2 separate regions of the Homo sapiens genome follow, and region 1 is linked to region 2. Evidence: fine-mapped expression QTL. A gene starts in region 2. The other region holds a variant in brackets. All regions are shown on one strand. Distances are between the middles of the regions. Region 1 has its middle 21 kb from the start of TUG1. Region 2 holds the start of SELENOM (selenoprotein M).

Region 1 (8,745 bases), 120 kb before region 2:
CTTTGAATAGGCCACTCCCTACGACAGAGAAAGGGTTGTCCACTAGGGTGCCACTTCTAACAAAGATGTGTTGTCTCCCTGTATTTGTTCTTCCCAGAGTAAACACATTTTTCAGTTTCCCTGGCAGGTGTAACCCACTAACTAAATTTTAGCCAGTGGGACCTGAGTAACTTATAGGACTTATCCTTAAAAAGGAGTGAGCCCATCTCCTTCCTTCACCCTCCTGACTAGAATGTAGGCTTCACCCCGCTGACTAGAATTCCATGACTGGAATTTGTCACTGTTGGACCATAAAGGAGAAGGCACTCTGTGCCAGTGACGATGGAGCAACAAGTTAGAAGGAGCCTAGATTCCTGATGAATGTGAAGCCACCTTACCAGGCCTGAACTGCTTATCTCTGGACCTCGTTTACAAAACTAATTTCTGTCTTCTTGACATCATTAGTATATGAGGTTTTTCTCTGCCTCACAACTGAACGTAGTCTGCCCATAAATATTTTGCTGGAAATATTTCTTAGGAACATCTGATTCCATCCGTTCTGATTTTATACTACTGAATCAACCTGCCCCTAGCTGGACTCACTAAGAGTAGATGACTGGTTGGGTCATGAACCAGCCACATATCTTTAATCATAAATTAATAGGGCTGTGCACAGTGGCTCACGCCTGTAATCCCAGCACTTTGGAAGGCCGAGGCGGGCAGATCACTTTAGGTCAGGACATCTAGACCAGCCTGGCCAACATGGTAAAATCCGTCTCTACTAAAAATACAAAAATTAAGCCAGGCGTGGTGGGTGCCTGTAATCCCAGCCACTCAGGAGGCGGAGGTTGCAGTGAGCTGAGAGCTGAGAGCGCACCATTGCACTCCAACCTGGGGAACAAGAGTGAGATCCGTCTCAAGAAAAAAATCATAAATTAATAAATTGGTCTCTTTATTAGTTCAGTGGCCCTCCTTTATGCTCTCAGAGTCTCACTGTTATGGACATCCATTGCTTTTGTCTACTCAGTATCTATCTTCACTTCTTTTGATAAGAGAATATTAGTTGCGCTCTGAGTTTCCAACCCTCCTTCACTTTCTGTCTGTTCACTACCCCTGGCTCCAGGACTGAGCATGTAACTCGGACCGACCAGAGCACTGCAGCGCCTTGGTCAGGGTAGTTGGATATGGAGTGAGTTTATTATCTAAGCCAAGCCAGTTTTACACAAATAGAGCTAATGGAGGTGGGGGAATTTCCTTTTTAATCTATTGAATTTAGAACTGTAAGGTTGCAAGACTGGCATTATTGGCAGCCCTCTTGCCACCACAAGGAGGTTGCTCATCTGAGAATGAGGCTGGTCTTGAACTCCTGACCTCAGGTGATTTGCCTGCCTCGGCTTCCCAAAGTGCTGGGATTACAGGAGTGAGCCACTGCATCCGGCCTAATTCTGCTGTTTCTGTTCCACTTCTGTTGACTCAGGAGAATGGCAAAGATGAGCCCAGGAGTCCTTAAGATTCTCAGTGTTCCACTCTTGATGTAATTGTTGATCTAGCTTCAGCCCATTTCCCTGACCTAATGACTGGGTCTTATTTCGGCTACTTTAAGACATGGAGACCTACTGGTTTGGGATGGCAACCTGGGATAAAACTGTGAGGGCTTCTGGGATATTCTAATTGTTTGGAATTACACCTAAGCAGAAAAATACCTTTTATTATTGTTGGTGTAAAGGACCAGGACTCTGACTGAAACAAACCTACGGTTTTTTTTTTTTAATAACAAGTAGCAATTGAGGGTATGGGACCTTGATCTGATGCAGTCAGTGCAGTGGTAAGCCATTTATCCCTGTGGAGTGTGCCCAGGCTCCCAGGACTGTTCACCTGCTCTGATAGAGATGACAGAGGTCATGTTTCATTTTTTCTTTTTTAATTTTTTGAGATGGAGTCTCACTCTGTCATCCAGGCTGGAGTGTAGTGGTGCAATCTCGGCTCACTGCAACCTCCGTCCCCTGGGTTCAGGCAATTCTCCTACCTCAGCCTCCCGAGTAGCTAGGATTACAGGCGTGCACCACCACACCTGGCTAATTTTTGTATTTTTAGTGGAGACAGGATTTCACTATATTGGCCAGAATGGTCTCAAATTCATGGCCTCAAGTGATCTGCCCAAGAAAGGCCATATTTCTATGAATGAGAATTGGACCTTCTTAATCCAGGCCTCCTACCACATTTGCTAACTGGCCAACTGGCATGAGTGGCATCCAAGGACCTCAGCCCATGAGAGAAAGGGAATGTGACATGTTTTTCTGTCGACAGCATTTCTGAGGGTGGTGGGGTAAATAAGAAATTGCTTTTCCTTATAAAACAAATTGAATGTGATAGCATGTGCATGTCATTGACACCAGCAGTTGTGCTGTGGTTAAAAATGGCAAGGGAATGGCTGGCTGAGCTAAGTCTTCCAGGATATTGTTGCCTTAACAGCATTATTGCTAACAATTGCCATTTGCTCAGGCAACATGGTGAAACCCCATCTCTACAAAAATATAAAAATTAGCTGGGCATGTTGGTGGGTGCCTGTAATCCCAGCTACTCGGGAGGCTGAGGCAGGAGAATCACTTAAACCCGGGAGGTGGAGATTGTACTGAGCCAAGATCGTGCCATTGCACTGCAGCCTGGGTGATAGAGCGACACTCCATCTCAAAAAAAAAGAGCAGAATCACGTTTGCCTGATTCAACACTTGGCCTCTTTGGACAAGAGTCTGATTTCTCAAGTTCAGATGATGCCTGGAACTCTTTGGAGTTGGAGAGAAGATGGTTTGGCCAGAGAAGATCAGAGGCTGTTTTAGGTCTTCTAGGATTCAGGAGACATACATAGAACATGGCTTCCATGGAGGTGGCGAGACAGGAGAACCAACGAACTCAGGCTCCAGTCATAAATATTTACTGGTATGCTCATAACACAACAATGATGGTCCTCAAAATGACATTCAACTTGCGTCCTATCCTAAGAACAAACACCTGGAGTGCACTATGAACTGATGTTTTAAATCTCTGTTTGCCTTGTGACCAGCACAATTATACTGCAGTATATTCTGTGTGTATTTTACAATATTCATTTTCCAATGTAATCACTTAAGTTATACCACAAATTTTGGAAAGTGTATGACAAATCAAGAATGAAATCAGAGTTCAGAGCAACACGTAAACATGCACATGCACACATGAGACAGCCCTGGAAACCAGCCCCAAAGACAGGACCTAGAAGAGGTCTTGATGAAAGGCAGCCTGTAGTAGAACAGGCTTCGTTGCAGGTCCTACAGAAGAACGGGGTTGAGTTATGCAGCTTCTCCCATCCCTTTCTGGCCCAAAGCAAGCCCCAACCCCAACCACTTTGAGATGCTACATTATGTTTAACTATGGGAAAACTCACAGTGATCAAAAATGAATGTGGAAAAGTTTCAAGAAACCTCGAGTCTATAATAGCAAGTATCCTTGGCTTTGGCCGAAAAGCAAATTGATACCAAGTTGTTCTTAGCACTTCGCCAAATGGATTGCTGTTTCCTTGTGCCTGGAGCACCCAAAAAGGGAATGAGGGCTGAGGCTGCTGTGTTTATAGCTCTTCGCCAAGATACCTCTCCCAGTACCCTCTTTTAAGGCAAAGAACCCTGCTCCAATAGCATTGTGTCCTGACAGCCCTGTGGACCCCTTTGATGATAACCACATACTCTTGCTTCACCTCTGTGCTTGTCCTTAGGACCTAACAGCCTAAGAAGGAGAGGCAGAACCTGCTTATTCCCTTCTTTCCTTGCCTCTCTCATTTCCTGGTCTTTCTTCCACTTGGAAAATTTGAGTCAGATTTCCATGTGTCTTCCACCTAGGCCTTACAGGAAACCACTTCCTTTTATACATCTTTGGGTGCCCTATGTGGAGGGGATCCTCACACACTCTCCCTGGCTCTGACTCCTTCCCCTTCCCCTAAACCTATAGTGTCCATATTCTACCCCTGCCTTGTGAAATTTCATAAGGAGGAAGTTGCTCAACATCTATCAAGACTCATAGAAGATAAAGGGCTGTAAGAAATTTGGAAACTTCACATTCAGATTGCTGCTAAGAACTCAGATCAAGATGTGGTATACAGGACATATACATAAATTGTTGGGTTTAGTGCAAAATGAAAATGCGGGGTCCCTTGTTCAAAAATCATTAAGAATTTCAAGAAGGTGACAATAGAGCACAAAACAAATGTGAGGCCCTTCTGGGAGCAGGGCCCTTTTAAGTATGGAGGCTTGTGTGACTCCGCAGGTTGCATGCCCAGTAATCTAGCCCTGATGGTATATTTTGCTCAAATATCCTTTGGTTAAGCATCTAAAACACACCCATACCACCCCGTCTCCCAATTCTGGACAGCATTCTGTAACATTATTACAATACATGTTAATAACTGATTAGGGCTGGGAATGGAACTAAGATCTCTGCTTTTATCCACTGTATGAGGATCCCCTCCATATAAATGATCTTCTACGCAGGCTTCTACCAAAACCTCATTCTCTGAGCCATATATCTTCTTCAACCTGGAAAACAATGGACCCATGATGGTGGATGAATAAGAACAGAGGCTTTTTAGCCACTCAACTAGGAGATGTTGATAACAGAATAGTAGCTTTCTTTTATCAAACCCTTAGCATGTGCCAGACACAACTCTGCAATTTACACACGTCATCTCATTTGACATGTTTCAGGTATGAATTTTATTCCATAGCCCTAGCGCAAGAAGTTTCCCATACCTTTATAGGTTATTTCATGCCGCCCTGAGTCTACTTGCTCACACCGCCCTACCCCCAGCCATGACTCTGTGATGACAAAAATC[T/A]AAGGCACCTCCCATGGTGGTCACCACATGGAAAAAAAGCACCTCCTTCACCTGCTATTAGACATCATGCCCAGGACGCTTCCTTCTGGTGTCCAGAGACACTGGCTCTTCCTTCAGTCCAGTCCCCCAACTGACTTCAGATATACACCTGGACACTCACCTTCTCCAGCTGTAAGGACAAGCAAGAATTAGGTCTCCTCCATGTTTTGAACATCCTCAAATCCTGTCCCCTTCTTATTTCAAATCTTTGCATGGCCCTGAAACACCGAATACTAAGGACATCTCCAGATGGGGTATGAGACAGCAATATCATCAGCCTCCTTTTGCTGGGGCTGGGCTGGAGATAAGAGCTGCTTACACCAGAGAGTGTTTTATATTTTCCTTTAATAACTTGCCAGGCAACATCAGATGAAGAAACTTTGGCTGAAAGAAGCCATTAATCTAAGGTTCTATAGCTAGGAAGTGGCAGGGCCAGGATTTGAAGCTGCCTGATCTATTCCCCAGATGTAGGCCACCTGCCACCATCATTGAGATCACCTTCAGAGAGTTCATTCAGAACTTCGCAAGCCTCACACTGGCCTACAGAATGAAAACCTCTGAGGAGAACCTTAGCTTCTGGAATTTCTATCTGGAATTCCAGCCAACCTCACAATATTAAGTGGCAGACAGGCTTAAAGGTGTTCTTACCCCCACCACTCTCCAATGATCCATGCTTCCTGGTGTTCACATCTATCTTAGTCATCTCAGGCTGCCATAACAAAATACCACAGACTGAGTGGTTTAAACAACAGAAATTAATTTCTCACACTTCTGGAGGCTGGAAATCTGAGATTAGGGTGATCAGCTGCCTTGGTTTCTGAGGGCTCTCTTTCTGGCTTATATATGGTTGCCTTCTCAATATGTCCTCATATGGCTTTACTTGGTGCATGCACATAGAGAAAGAGCTCTTCTTACAAGGTCACTAATCCTATCAGATCAGGGCCTCACCCTTGTGACCTCATTTAATATTACATCCTTAGAGGCTCATCTTCAAATATAGTCACACTGTGGGGGTGAGGGTTAGGGCTTCAATGTGAATTTTACTGAAATATTCAGTCCATAACAGTACCTTTGTGTCATCCCTTCCCTTTCAATTGACTTCCCCTTAAGGTGGGTTTTATGATTTCCTTTTAGAAAATGTTGTCTTGGCTGGGCATGGTGGCTCACGCCTGTAATCCCAGCACTTTGGGAGGCCAAGGCAGATGGATCACTTGAGGTCAGGAGTTCGAGACCAGCCTGGCCAACATGGTGAAACACTGTGTCTACTAAAATACAAAAAAAAAAAAAAATCAGCTGGGCATGGTGGTGTGTGCCAGTAGTCCCAGTTACTCAGGAGGCTGAGCCAGGAGAATTACTTGAACCCAGGAGGTGGAGGTTACAGTGATCCCAAGATCATGCCACTGCACTCCAGCCTGGCCTGGGTGGCAGAACAAGACCCTGCTTAAAAAAAAAAAAAAAAAAAAAAATAGTGTCTTGCTCTAGAAGCTCTCCTTGCTGGTTTGTTAAAGAAAGTGGACATGTTGGGAAATCCCAAATGGCAAGAAACTGTGGGTATAGATCTGAGGGTGGCTTCCAAGCAAAGGACAGCAAGAAGCTGGGGCCCTCTGTCCCACAGCTCCAAGGAACTGAATTCTGCCAACAACTTGAGTGTGCTTGGAAGTGGATTCTTCCCCATTCAAACATCCAGATGAGAACACAGCCCACCCAACATCTTGACTGTAGCCTTGTGGGTCCCTGAGCAGAGGACTCGGCTAAGCCATGCCTGGACTCCCAGCCCACAGAAACTGTGAGATAATGTGTGTTGTTTTAAGCCACTAAGTTTGTGGTAATTTGTTGTATAGCAAGGGAAAACCAATAAATTAGAAAACCCCACAGTCTTCACCCACAAGGCTGCATGGATGATTCCTCTCTTTTTTACTTCTACCCAGAAGCAACTTGTGTACTTACTGAGCATGACAAAGGGCATGTGCCAAAAGGCCTGCTTTTAAACTTTTTTAATTTCTTGATTATCAAAAGTAATAGATGTTCATTGTAGAAAATCTGGAAGCACACAAAAAGAAAATAAAAATTACCCAGAATAATTTCCTCCTGCCAACTCAGATAACCACAGATAACACATTGGCAAGTAGCCTTCACCACCTTGGTTCTATACAGGGAGGCTGGATAAAGTTACAAACAGAGAATGTTCTGTACGGACCGTTTTGTGACTTGCTCTTTCCAGTGTCAGCCCACATTTTCTGAAGAATTTGAAGCATCAGAGGGGTGAATTTGTTTCCAGCATTTTGGGCCATTGCCAGATTCCATTTTTAATGACCTCAGGTTTTTCCCAGAGTGGGCTTTGGCAAAGGAGACTCATTAAAAGGAAACTGAGGCCAGAGAGGGGAGGACATGCCAAAGGCCAGATAGCCTGTTGGCACCCAGAGAGTTCCCTCCTTCCAAATTCCTCATAACATCGTAGCTTAGCTGCTGTATTCCCAAAACCCACACAGTGCCCCAGAGCTTTACCCTTGGAATTATTATCAGAGATAAGTTCCTTAAAGCCACAGCCTCATCTCCAATCAAGGGAGTTCCTTGGAGGGACTTGGAATAGGAAGAAGCTAGAACCCTCTGAGATCTGGCCATCCACCACCCATGAGGCCCAATTCTTCCCTGGTCCCCTGAGCAACTGAAAATCAGCTCCTAGAGTATCATTTCAGAACTTTGAGCATTTGGGCTTCTTTTATTTTATTTTATTTTGTTTTATTTATTTATTTTTTGAGACAGGATCTCACTCTGTCGCTCAGGCTGGAGTGCAGTGGCGTGATCTCAGCTCATTGCAACCTCCACCTCCCAGGTTTCAGTGATCCTCCAACTTCAGCAACCCTAGTAACTGCCACCACACCCAGCTGATTTTTTTTATCCTTTGTAGAGACAGGGTTTTGCCATGTTGCTCAGGCTGGTCTCGAACTCATGGACTCAAGGGATCCACCAGCTTTGGCCTCCCAAAGTGCTGGAATTACAGACATGACCCACTGCGCCCAGCCTTTTCCTTTTAAATGTGAGTGGGAAGATAGTAAGGAAAGAGAAGGAAGGAAGAAGGAAGGCAGGAGTCATTTTATTCAATAAACTTTCATCAAGCCTCTGGAAGACCAGTCCTCTGTGCTAAGTACTGGAGCTATTGCGACGAGGTAGCATGAGGTCACTTTATTTGCTTATTTATTTATTTTTTGAGACAGGGTCTCACTCTGTTATCCAGGCTGGAGTGCAATGGCACGATCTTTGCTCACTGCAACCTCTGCCTTCTAGGTTCAAGCGATTCTCCTGCCTCAGCCTCCCGAGTAGCTGGGATTACAGGCATCTACCACCATGCCCAGCTAATTTTTGTAATTTTAGTGGAGACGGAGTTTCACTTTGTTGGCCAGGCTGATCTCAAACTCCTGACCTCAAGTGATCCGCCCACCTCAGGCTCCCAAAGTGCTGGGATTGTGGCCGAGGTCACTTTCAATACTTAGTTTAACATTTGTAAACTATGATTGTTCCAGTTGTTTGTTGCTGTATCACAAACCACCCCAAAAAGCTTAGTATCATAAAACAACAAGCATTTTATATACTTATGATTCTGTGGGTCAGGAATTGGGCAGGACACAGTATGGATGGTTCATCTCTGTTCTTAGATATCTAAGACATCAGCTGCAGTGCAGTGCAGTGCAGTGCAGTGATGATGGCTGAAGATGGCTGGGACAGCTCAACTGGGGCCATGAGCTTGGGGCCTCAGTTCTTCTCCGTGATGCGTCTTCTGGGGTGGTGTATAAGTTAGGATTCTCCAGAGGGACAGATGTATATAAAAGGGGATAGGATAGGATAGATGTATATAAAAGGGGAGTTTATTA
Region 2 (8,745 bases):
GGGAGAGGGAAGATGGTTAGGTCAGAGCTGGGGCCAGAAACTGAGACTCCAAACTCCCCACTTAGTGGCTGTTTTCCTTGCCCCATCACTGTGTTCCCGCCCATTTTGTAGAGAGGATTGAAAATAGAGGCCCAGAAGGAGCAAGGGGATTGGCTGAAGGAATGTGAGTCAGTGACAGGTAGGGGCACACTCAGATGCCCCTCAGGGCCTGGAGCCATTGTGGGGGGCAGTCCACATGTGCACACACACACTCAGAGAAGGAGCACAGATGAGTGGCGGATGGGCTTGGTGCTATCTCCAGATCATATATGGACTTAGGAGCTGCTGCCCAGCAAGCCAGCTTGGAGGGAGAGGGGCCCAGCCCAGCCCTGATCCAGTTGGAAAGTGTGACTCAGCCGTGCTGTTGCTCAAGTTGCCTGGTGTTTGGCCTGTCACTGGGGCAGCCTGAGCCCTGAGCCCTGAGCCCCAGTGTAAACAATGGCTTTATAAGGTCTCCAGGGAAGGGAGTGGGGCGGGAGGGAGCACCAGGTTGGAGAGGGCGGTCGGGATCCCCAGGACGATAGCCACAGCTGGAAGAAGCTTCAGAGAGAGGCTGCCTTTGCATCATGGTACAGCTCGGGAAACAAGCCCAGTCTGGGATAGGGATGACCCTAGGGGCACGTGGCACATCAGCAGCAGACCCAGAACCCTCTCACTCATCCTAAATTCTTGTAAGGTCTCAAATGAGATAGAGAATAACTGTCCTGTTCTAAAGAGGGGGAAACAGTCATAGAAAAGGGCCTTATCTAGCACCCACAACTGGTTAGGGATACAGTCTGGACTAAAACAGAGGTGTTCGGTGTTCTGCCTCCCAGGTTTCTTCTCTGAAGGAGTCCAGGTGAGCTGGGGGTAGGCCCAGCCCTACCACAGTTCTGAGTTTGTCCATAAGGGCACGAGATGGGAGGTGGTCTTGGGTTCTCAGGTGTCTTGAGAATAAGGAGCAATTGTTGCCATTATGCCTTCCCTGCCATAGGAAACTCATTCAGCAACATTGAATGCTTGCTATGTCCCAGGTATGGCAGATAGGAGGGATCAAGGCAGAAGAGGTCTTGCTCTGGGGGTTGAGGGACAGGGGAAAAGGAGCCAGAGAGCAGACTCCAGCTTCAGAGCTCTGGGAGCTGTCAGTTGCTTAATAGGCACAACCCACTCACTCCAGAGTGGGGAAAAGGCTTTGCCAACACCCAGAACTGGGGGCCTGGGTCCCATGCGGCCTAGCCTGCACTTACTAAGCCATGGGGCTTGAAACAAATGGCTCCTCTGCTCTGTGACTCAGTTTCCTTATCTGTGAAGGGCAGCTAGCATTCTGAAGGATGGCCAGAAGGGTGGTCCCCCCGAGCATGGCATAGATGGTCCATTGGTATTGGCTGGGATCCTCATCTGCCTCCTCTGCTCTACCCAAGGCAGGTGATAAGGGTTAGAGAACCCCTCTGCTGCCCACACGTTCCCTGGCCTCCATCTCCAGCAGCAGGGTTATCCCCACCCCCTGTCAAAGAATAGGGGTCCCTGGGCCTCTCAACAGGAAGTACCAGATCAGGCAGCTAGCAGACAATCATCGGTGGACCACAGGGCCACTAGAGTGAGACCTATCCATAGATAAAGATTGGCCAGTGATGAAGCCCATCTGGGTGCAAAGGCCGAGCTGAGAGGCTTCTACCAACTGGAGTGTGCCAGTGAGGGTGAGCAGAAGGTGGTCTCCAGGGAGAACATGGGCAGGGTTTGGAGCCAGCACCTCCCCAGGGTTGGAGGAAGCAGACCCAGGACCTGCCTGACTGGGATGGGGCTCTCTTCTGCCATCTCCGCCTCCACCTGCCTAGCTCTGCTCCCCCGCCCCGAGAGATGCCTCCAGGCTTGGGTAGATGAAGCCAGGGGCTTCCTGCCTTCCTGGAAGGCTTTTCCCTGTCTGGAGTTTATGAAAGACCAGCAGGCAATGCGGCAATAAAAAAGACCTTGGGGTAGAGGGGCGCCACGAGAGGCGGGTCTGGCGCTGACATCCAACCCCGTGCCCCCTCCCTGCAGGATGCTGGTGGACTGTGTGCCCCTGGTGGAGGTGGACGACATGATGATCATGGGCAAGAAGCCTGACCCCAAGTGTGTCTTCACCTATGTGCAGTCGCTCTACAACCACCTGCGACGCCACGAACTGCGCCTGCGCGGCAAGAATGTCTAGCCTGCCCGCCCGCATGGCCAGCCAGTGGCAAGCTGCCGCCCCCACTCTCCGGGCACCGTCTCCTGCCTGTGCGTCCGCCCACCGCTGCCCTGTCTGTTGCGACACCCTCCCCCCCACATACACACGCAGCGTTTTGATAAATTATTGGTTTTCAACGATCCTGACTCCTCTCTGCGTCTCCTGGGGGTGGGGAGGGGGTTTGAACCGAAGGCAGCTCCGCAAGGTCTCCAACTCCAGCAGGGATCCTCAGAGGTTCTTCTTCCGACCTCCCACCCCACCCGCCCGCAGCAACGAAGGAGTCGAGCCTCAGTTAAGGCAGGAGGGAATTTAGTGGAGCTGGGGAAGGAAGAAAGTGGGGTTGGGAGAACCTCCCCAACCCCATCCCTGCTGGCCCGGGGACGGGCATCGGCTCTCAGCAAGAGAAGTATTCCCGGGATGCTGAGCGCTTCATTCTGTCTCCAGGACTCAGGCAGGTAGGTCCCAGCTCCGCCGCGCCCCCGGACCTACAGGTCAGCGTGGTCCGAAGTTTCCTCTGGGGGCTTCGCGGGCGCCCACACGTACTCGGGGGGCACCTGCGCGTCGGGCGCCGCCTTGCGGTAGAAGCCGAGCTCCTGCACTAGCGCATTGATCTCTTCGCGGGTCATTTCACTGAGTGGGATGCGCTGAGGCGGAGGAGGGGCGGGGTCAGCAGGCTGGGCCTCGCCTCTGGCCTCGCCCCCAGCCCACCTCCCACGGCCTCACCTCTAGTTCCTCGTAGCGGCGGCCCAGCAGCACGAGCTCAGGGTCGGCCCCAGGGAGGTGTTTCATCACCAGGTTGTGACTGGAGGTGGTGTTAAGGAGCGGGGTGGTGGGCAGAGGGAGGTGGTGGTTTCCGCAGCCTTACTGATGGGAACAGCATTGCCTCCTTTGCTCAGAGCTTACTCTGTGCCCGGGAGGGGCCAGGGTCTCCGCTTATACGTGAGAAAATTAGGGTTCAAAGAAGTAAAGGGCCCTCCTCTCCATTCTGTGGCAGTCATCACTAGTCAATCTCTCTTGCCCACCCAACATGGAGACCACCTCAGAATCCTCTGGGAGCCACTACCAATCAATTCAACTTGTCAGTTGAAAACCATCTGCCACCCCTTTCTGAAGTTACGTGGAGATTCTCCCAGGTGCCCATCCCATTTCCCCTCCCCCAGAACAGAAGGATACTAGAATGGAATGTCCTGCGTGACGAAAGCCTTCACCTGGGGAGGAACCAGAGCATCAGAGACCATGACCTCAGTCTACTCGAGGTACAGACGAGACACTGAAGCCCAGTGAGGTCATAAAGCAAGTCAGGTGCAGGCTAGACTCTCAGCCTAGGCTAGACTCTCAGCCTAGGGATCCTTCCCCCCTCCCCGCCCCAGTCATTGGGACCATGTTGCCCACTCCCCAAGAGGCTCAGGGGGAACAGAGCTAGGGACCTCTTCCTTCAAACTCACCTCCTTTAGGCGGTTCAGCTGTCATCCCCCGCAGGTCTGGAGGGGGATAAAATGGGATAGGTCAGGAGTCCTTCACGTTTATTCCAGTCACATCCCCAAAGCCATACTTCCTTATCCCTGAGTTGGGTCGGGCTGTGAGTTATCCCCGGATCAGCAGTTCCCAAGGTCTGAAGGAAATGCTGGACCCTTGTGGGCAGAAGGGGGAACTGTGTATACAGGTGGGGAGACTCAGGCCTAGAGACACCAGGGGAAAAGAGCAAGGCCAGAGACCCACAGTGTGCCTGCCAGCCTTGGGGCCTGTACATCCTACTGGCTGTGGACTGACTCCCAATGCCCAGGGGAAATGATCACCCTGCTCCTCTTAAGCAGTAGAGACCTGGGCTTGGCCTTTGATCCCTGAAATCTCACAGTGGAGGCAGAGCAGAAGGAAACACCTCAGAATGGCCCTGGGGGCCCCCATTGGAGACACCTACCATCTGGTCCCTACTCTACACAGGCAGACCTCACCCTGCCTGCCACCTGCGGCCCAGCCCCACAGACCATGTGGTTGCTTCCCTGACATGGGAGGATGGGAGGGCTCCTCCCTGCCTTCCCTGAGGAGATGCCACCATCCAGCAGGAGTCTAGACCCCAGGACCACCCACTCCAGCCCTCCTCCATCCTACCCTCAGCCCTTTTCTTAGAGACAGGGTCTCACTATGTCCCCCAAGCTGGTCTTGAACTCCTGGGCTCAAGCAATCCTCCTGCCTTGGCCTCCCAAAGTGCTGGGATTACAGGCGTGCACCACCGGCACCCAACCATTCTACACCCTTTTGTCAGACAGAGCTGACAAAAAGCTCAGAGGCGGGCTGTGATGGTCAAAGTCACATAGCAAGACAGGGACTCCGAACGGGAATTTCCTGGTTGGGGGAGGATGGGAGGCTGCTGCAGAGTAAATGTTGGCAACCAAGTTCCCAACTCGGTTGCCCCTCCGAGTTGGCCCCCTTCCCCGGATCCTGCATATGGGAGGAGGCACCCAGAAAGTCTTCTTTCCCCCCAGGAGAAGGAAAAGAGACTTTCTGGAGCCTCCAGCCCTGGAACCGGGTCGGGGGGGAATTCCAGGAAAACATGAAGTGATGGGGGATGGGAAGTTGGGACAGGATTGGGAGTCATAGGCCACGAGAAGAGTTAGGAGACTGCGTCAGTGTGTCTGGGTGTCCGCTGTCGGACCGGGTAGGGGGAGCTGGGGAAGGGTTCGGAGTTCCAGGCCCCAAAGTCGGTGTCTCAGGCTTCCACGGTGGATGCTGGGGCCATCTGGGGCTAGGGAACAGGAGGGATGGTCCCGGCGCCAGGGGGAAAGCAGGGAGACTCGCGGTTCGAGGTGGTCTTGGGGCCGGGACGGACGGTGCTCCCATGGGGCCGCAGGGTTGGGGAACGATAGTGCCGGGGCTGGAGGCCGGCGTACTCACCTCTACCCGGGCGCGGGTTAGGCCGCTCAGACGGTTCCAGTCCGGCCGGTAGGCAGTGGCGGCTGTGGCTGGGGCCACAAGCGCCGCGAGAAGCAGCAGCAGCGCCAGCGGAGGCAACAGGAGGCTCATCGGGACCCGGCCGCAGATGATGCGCAAGCTGGAGGCGAACCTCCGAGTCGCTGCGCCACGTCTGGGCCCCCAGGCTGGCCCCGCCCCCGCCCCCGCCCCCACTCCCGCTAGAGGCCCAGTCCCGCTGGAGACCACGCCCCCAGCGCTCGGTCTCCGCCCCAGGACTCCCCGCCGTTACCTCCCGCTAGCTCAGGGCGAGGTCCTGGCTCCTCCCTGGCGTTTGGGCCGTCACTTTCCCAGGTCCGAGAGTGTCGACGCTCCTTTTGTCGACCGAGGATGTGGACGCTCCCCCAGGATGCGGCCAGGCAGCGCCACCTCACGCCGGCAGAGGGTGCCGGCGAGACGCTGAGGGACACTGGAGTTTCTGAGCCGAACCTGCGACTTTAAGATAGGGAAACTGGTAGGACATCCAAGAAAAAAAAAGGAAAGAAAGAAAGAAGAATAAATAAGGGAAACTGGCTTTCTGAGGACTCCTCGCTTTGGAGCGTGGGAGATGAGGAGTGAGGTTCGGTGGAGGGGGTGCGGCTTCTGGGAGCCACTGAGACCTACCAGCGTGTCTTCTTACCATCCACAGCTACTGCTGAGCAGACTTTCTGACCTGGGGTGAGGAAAGGAATTTGCTATTCAAAGGTGGGAAAATGCAAGGAGGGTTACAGCTGATAGGCCACAACAGGGTCTTAAATCAGCTGGGTTAAATTTATGGAGTCAGGATTTACTTTTTTTTTTAATGTGGCTATCCAATTCAATTAAAAATCTTGTCTTTTTCATTGCTACTCTGCCGCGTTACCTCTGTTATATATAAATAGGCAACCACGGCCGGGCGTGGTGGCTCACACCTGTAATCCCAGCACTTTGGGAGGCCGAGGTGGGTAGATCACTTGAGGTCAGAAGTTCGAGGCCAGCCTGGCCAACATGGTGAAACCCCATCGCTACTAAAAATACAAAAATTAGCTGGGCGTGGTGTGGGCGCCTGTAATCCTAGCTACTTGGGAGGCTGAGGCAGGAGAATCACTTCAACCTGGGAGGCAGAGTTTGCAATGAGCCGACATCCTACCACTGCACTCCAGCCTGGGCGACAGAGACTGTCTCAAAAATAAATAAATAAATAAATAGGTAACCATATAAATATATGGGAGTCTACTTCTGAATATCATACCCTATTCTAGTCCTTCAGTGGGTTTGTCTAACTACGCTGTCTTATTAACTATAGCTTTATAGTCAGACTTGACATCTGGTTGTGTGTTGGTCCTCTAGCTTTGTTCTTTCTTTCTTTCTTTTTTTTTTTGAGACGGAGTCTCGCTCTGTTGCCCAGGCTGGAGTTCAGTGGCCTGATCTCGGCTCACTGCAACCTCCGCCTCCCGGGTTCAAGCAATTCTCCTGCCTCAGCCTCCCGAGTAGCTGGGACTACAGGCACGCGCCACCACGCCCAGCTAATTTTTTTGTATTTTTAGTAGAGATGGGGTTTCACTGTGTTAGCCAGGATGTTCTTGATCTCCTGATCTCATGATCCGCCCGTCTCAGCCTCCCAAAGTGCTGGGATAACAGGTGTGAGCCACTGCGCCTGGCCCATTTTTTTTTGTTTTTTTGTTTGTTTGTTTTTTTGAGACAGAGTCTTGCTCTGTCAGCCAGGCTGGAGTGCAGTGGCACGATCTCAGCTCACTGCAACCTCCACCTCCCAGGTTCAAGCGATTCTTCTGCCTCAGCCTCCCAAGTAGCTGGGATTACAGGTGCCCACCACCACGCCCAGCTAATTTTGTATTTTTAGTAAATATGGGGGTTTCATCATCTTGGCCAGGCTGGTCTCGAACTCCTAACCTCAAGTCATCCACCCGCCTTGGCCTCCCAAAGTCCTGGGATTACAGGTGTGAGCTGCTGGGCTGGCTATTTTTTTTTTTTTTTTGAGACAGAGTCTTGCTCTGTTGCCCAGGCTGGAGTGCAGTGGCTCAATCACAGCCTGAACCTCCCAGGCTCAAGCAATCCTCCCACCTCAGCCTCCTGAGTAGCTGGGACTACAGGCATGCACCATCATGCCCAGCTGATTTTTTTTTTTTTTTTTTGAGACGGAGTTTCACTCTCATTGTCCAGGCTGGACACTCTCATGTCCAGTGGCATGATCCGGACTCACTGCAACCTCTGCCTCCCAGGTTCAAGCGATTCTCTTGCCTCAGCCTCCTAAGTAGCTGGGATTACAGGCGTCGGCCACCACACCCGGCTAATTTTTTGTCTTTTTAGTAGAGACGAGGTTTCACCATGTTGACCAAGCTGGTCGCAAACTCCTGGGCTCAAGTGATCCTCCTGCCTTGGCCTCCCAAAGTACTGGGATTACAGGCATGAGCGACCATGCCTGGCCTGTGGCCTACATTTTCCTGTGGTGAGGGCCATGTGTGATCCCACAGCCTCAGTAAGCCATCGCAGTCTAGCTTTGTTCTTCTTGAAGGTTGTCTTGACTATACTTGGCCTTTCACACTTCCAGGTACAATTTAGGGCCAGCTCGTCAACCTCCACAGAAAAACCTTCCAAATTTCTATCAGGATTTCAGATTCCCACTGGGGAAATCAATGTGGGGAGACTCTACAGCTTTACATTATTGTGACTTTTCTTCCACGAACATAGTAAGTCCCTCCATTTCTATAGGTCTTCTTTAATTTCCTTCAATAATATTTTGTGGTTTTTAGAATAAATATCTTGCATATCTTTCATTAGATTTACTCCTAGGTATTTAATTTTTTATAGCATTACAAACTCTATTGTTTTTACATATTCATTTTCAAGTTGCTTGGTAGTAGCATATAGGAAGACAATTGATTTTTGTATATTAACCTTGCAGCCAGTGACCTTACTGAATTTTCTTACTCTAATAGTTTAACTGGATATTTTTTTTTATTTTCTACATATGCATATTATATCATCTGGAAATAAAAGTGGTTTTCTTCCTTTCTGGTCCTTATACCTTGGTTTTGTTTCGTTGCACTGTCTTAATTTTACGGTCTGGGGCCTCTGGTACAATGTTGACTGGAACTGATAATTGTCTTTTTCCAGATATCATCTTTAAACGATCATGTTTGCTGTAGGTTTGTTACTGGTGCCTTTTGTAAAAGAAAGTTTTCTATTTCTATTTTTCTTAGAGCTTTTATCATGAATGGATGTTGAACTTTGTCAAATGTTTTCCTGCATCTATTGAGATGATCATGTGGTTTTTCTCCTTTATTTTATTAAATGTGGTAAAATATGTGAACTGATTTTCATATGTTAAACCTTGCATTCCTGTAATAAACCAATTTGGTTGTAGAAAAAAAGAGATAGGAAAACCGAACCCTAGGGAATCCCTGTTTGCGCTGTTTGTTTATTCAGTAGATTACGGGGTCTTGCTGCTGACCAGGCTGGTCTCAAACTCCTGGTCTCAAGTGATCCTCCTGCCTCAGCCTCCCAAAGTGCTAGAATTACAGGTGTGAGCCACTCCACCTGGCCTTTTTATTTCTTTGGACAAAAATTCCAATCAA

Evidence for each region. PIP is the estimated chance that this variant, and not a neighbour inherited with it, causes the effect.
Region 1: its variant is fine-mapped to the expression of SELENOM in fibroblasts (GTEx, PIP 0.94).

What each region holds. Positions count from the first base shown.
Region 1 is chr22:30,985,734-30,994,478 of GRCh38, forward strand. No RefSeq gene overlaps it. Among named protein-coding and RNA genes, the nearest start is that of TUG1, 21 kb to the left of the region's middle. The variant T/A (reference allele first, on the strand shown) is at 4,838.
Region 2 is chr22:31,102,261-31,111,005 of GRCh38, forward strand. It overlaps SELENOM (selenoprotein M), which reads right to left and starts at 5,308. Exons shown (of 5, transcript NM_080430.4): 1 at 5,117-5,308; 2 at 3,670-3,705; 3 at 3,398-3,432; 4 at 2,948-3,026; 5 at 2,517-2,868. The coding sequence starts at 5,245. The coding sequence ends at 2,710. SMTN (smoothelin) reads left to right here. Exons shown (of 21, transcript NM_134269.3): 21 at 2,056-2,364. LOC105372995 (a long non-coding RNA gene) reads right to left here. Exons shown (of 3, transcript XR_938163.3): 2 at 5,811-5,843; 3 at 5,376-5,626. It overlaps LOC124905100 (a long non-coding RNA gene), which reads left to right and starts at 5,622. Exons shown (of 2, transcript XR_007068063.1): 1 at 5,622-5,848; 2 at 7,719-8,192. RefSeq lists enhancers at 1,542-2,492, 3,992-4,764.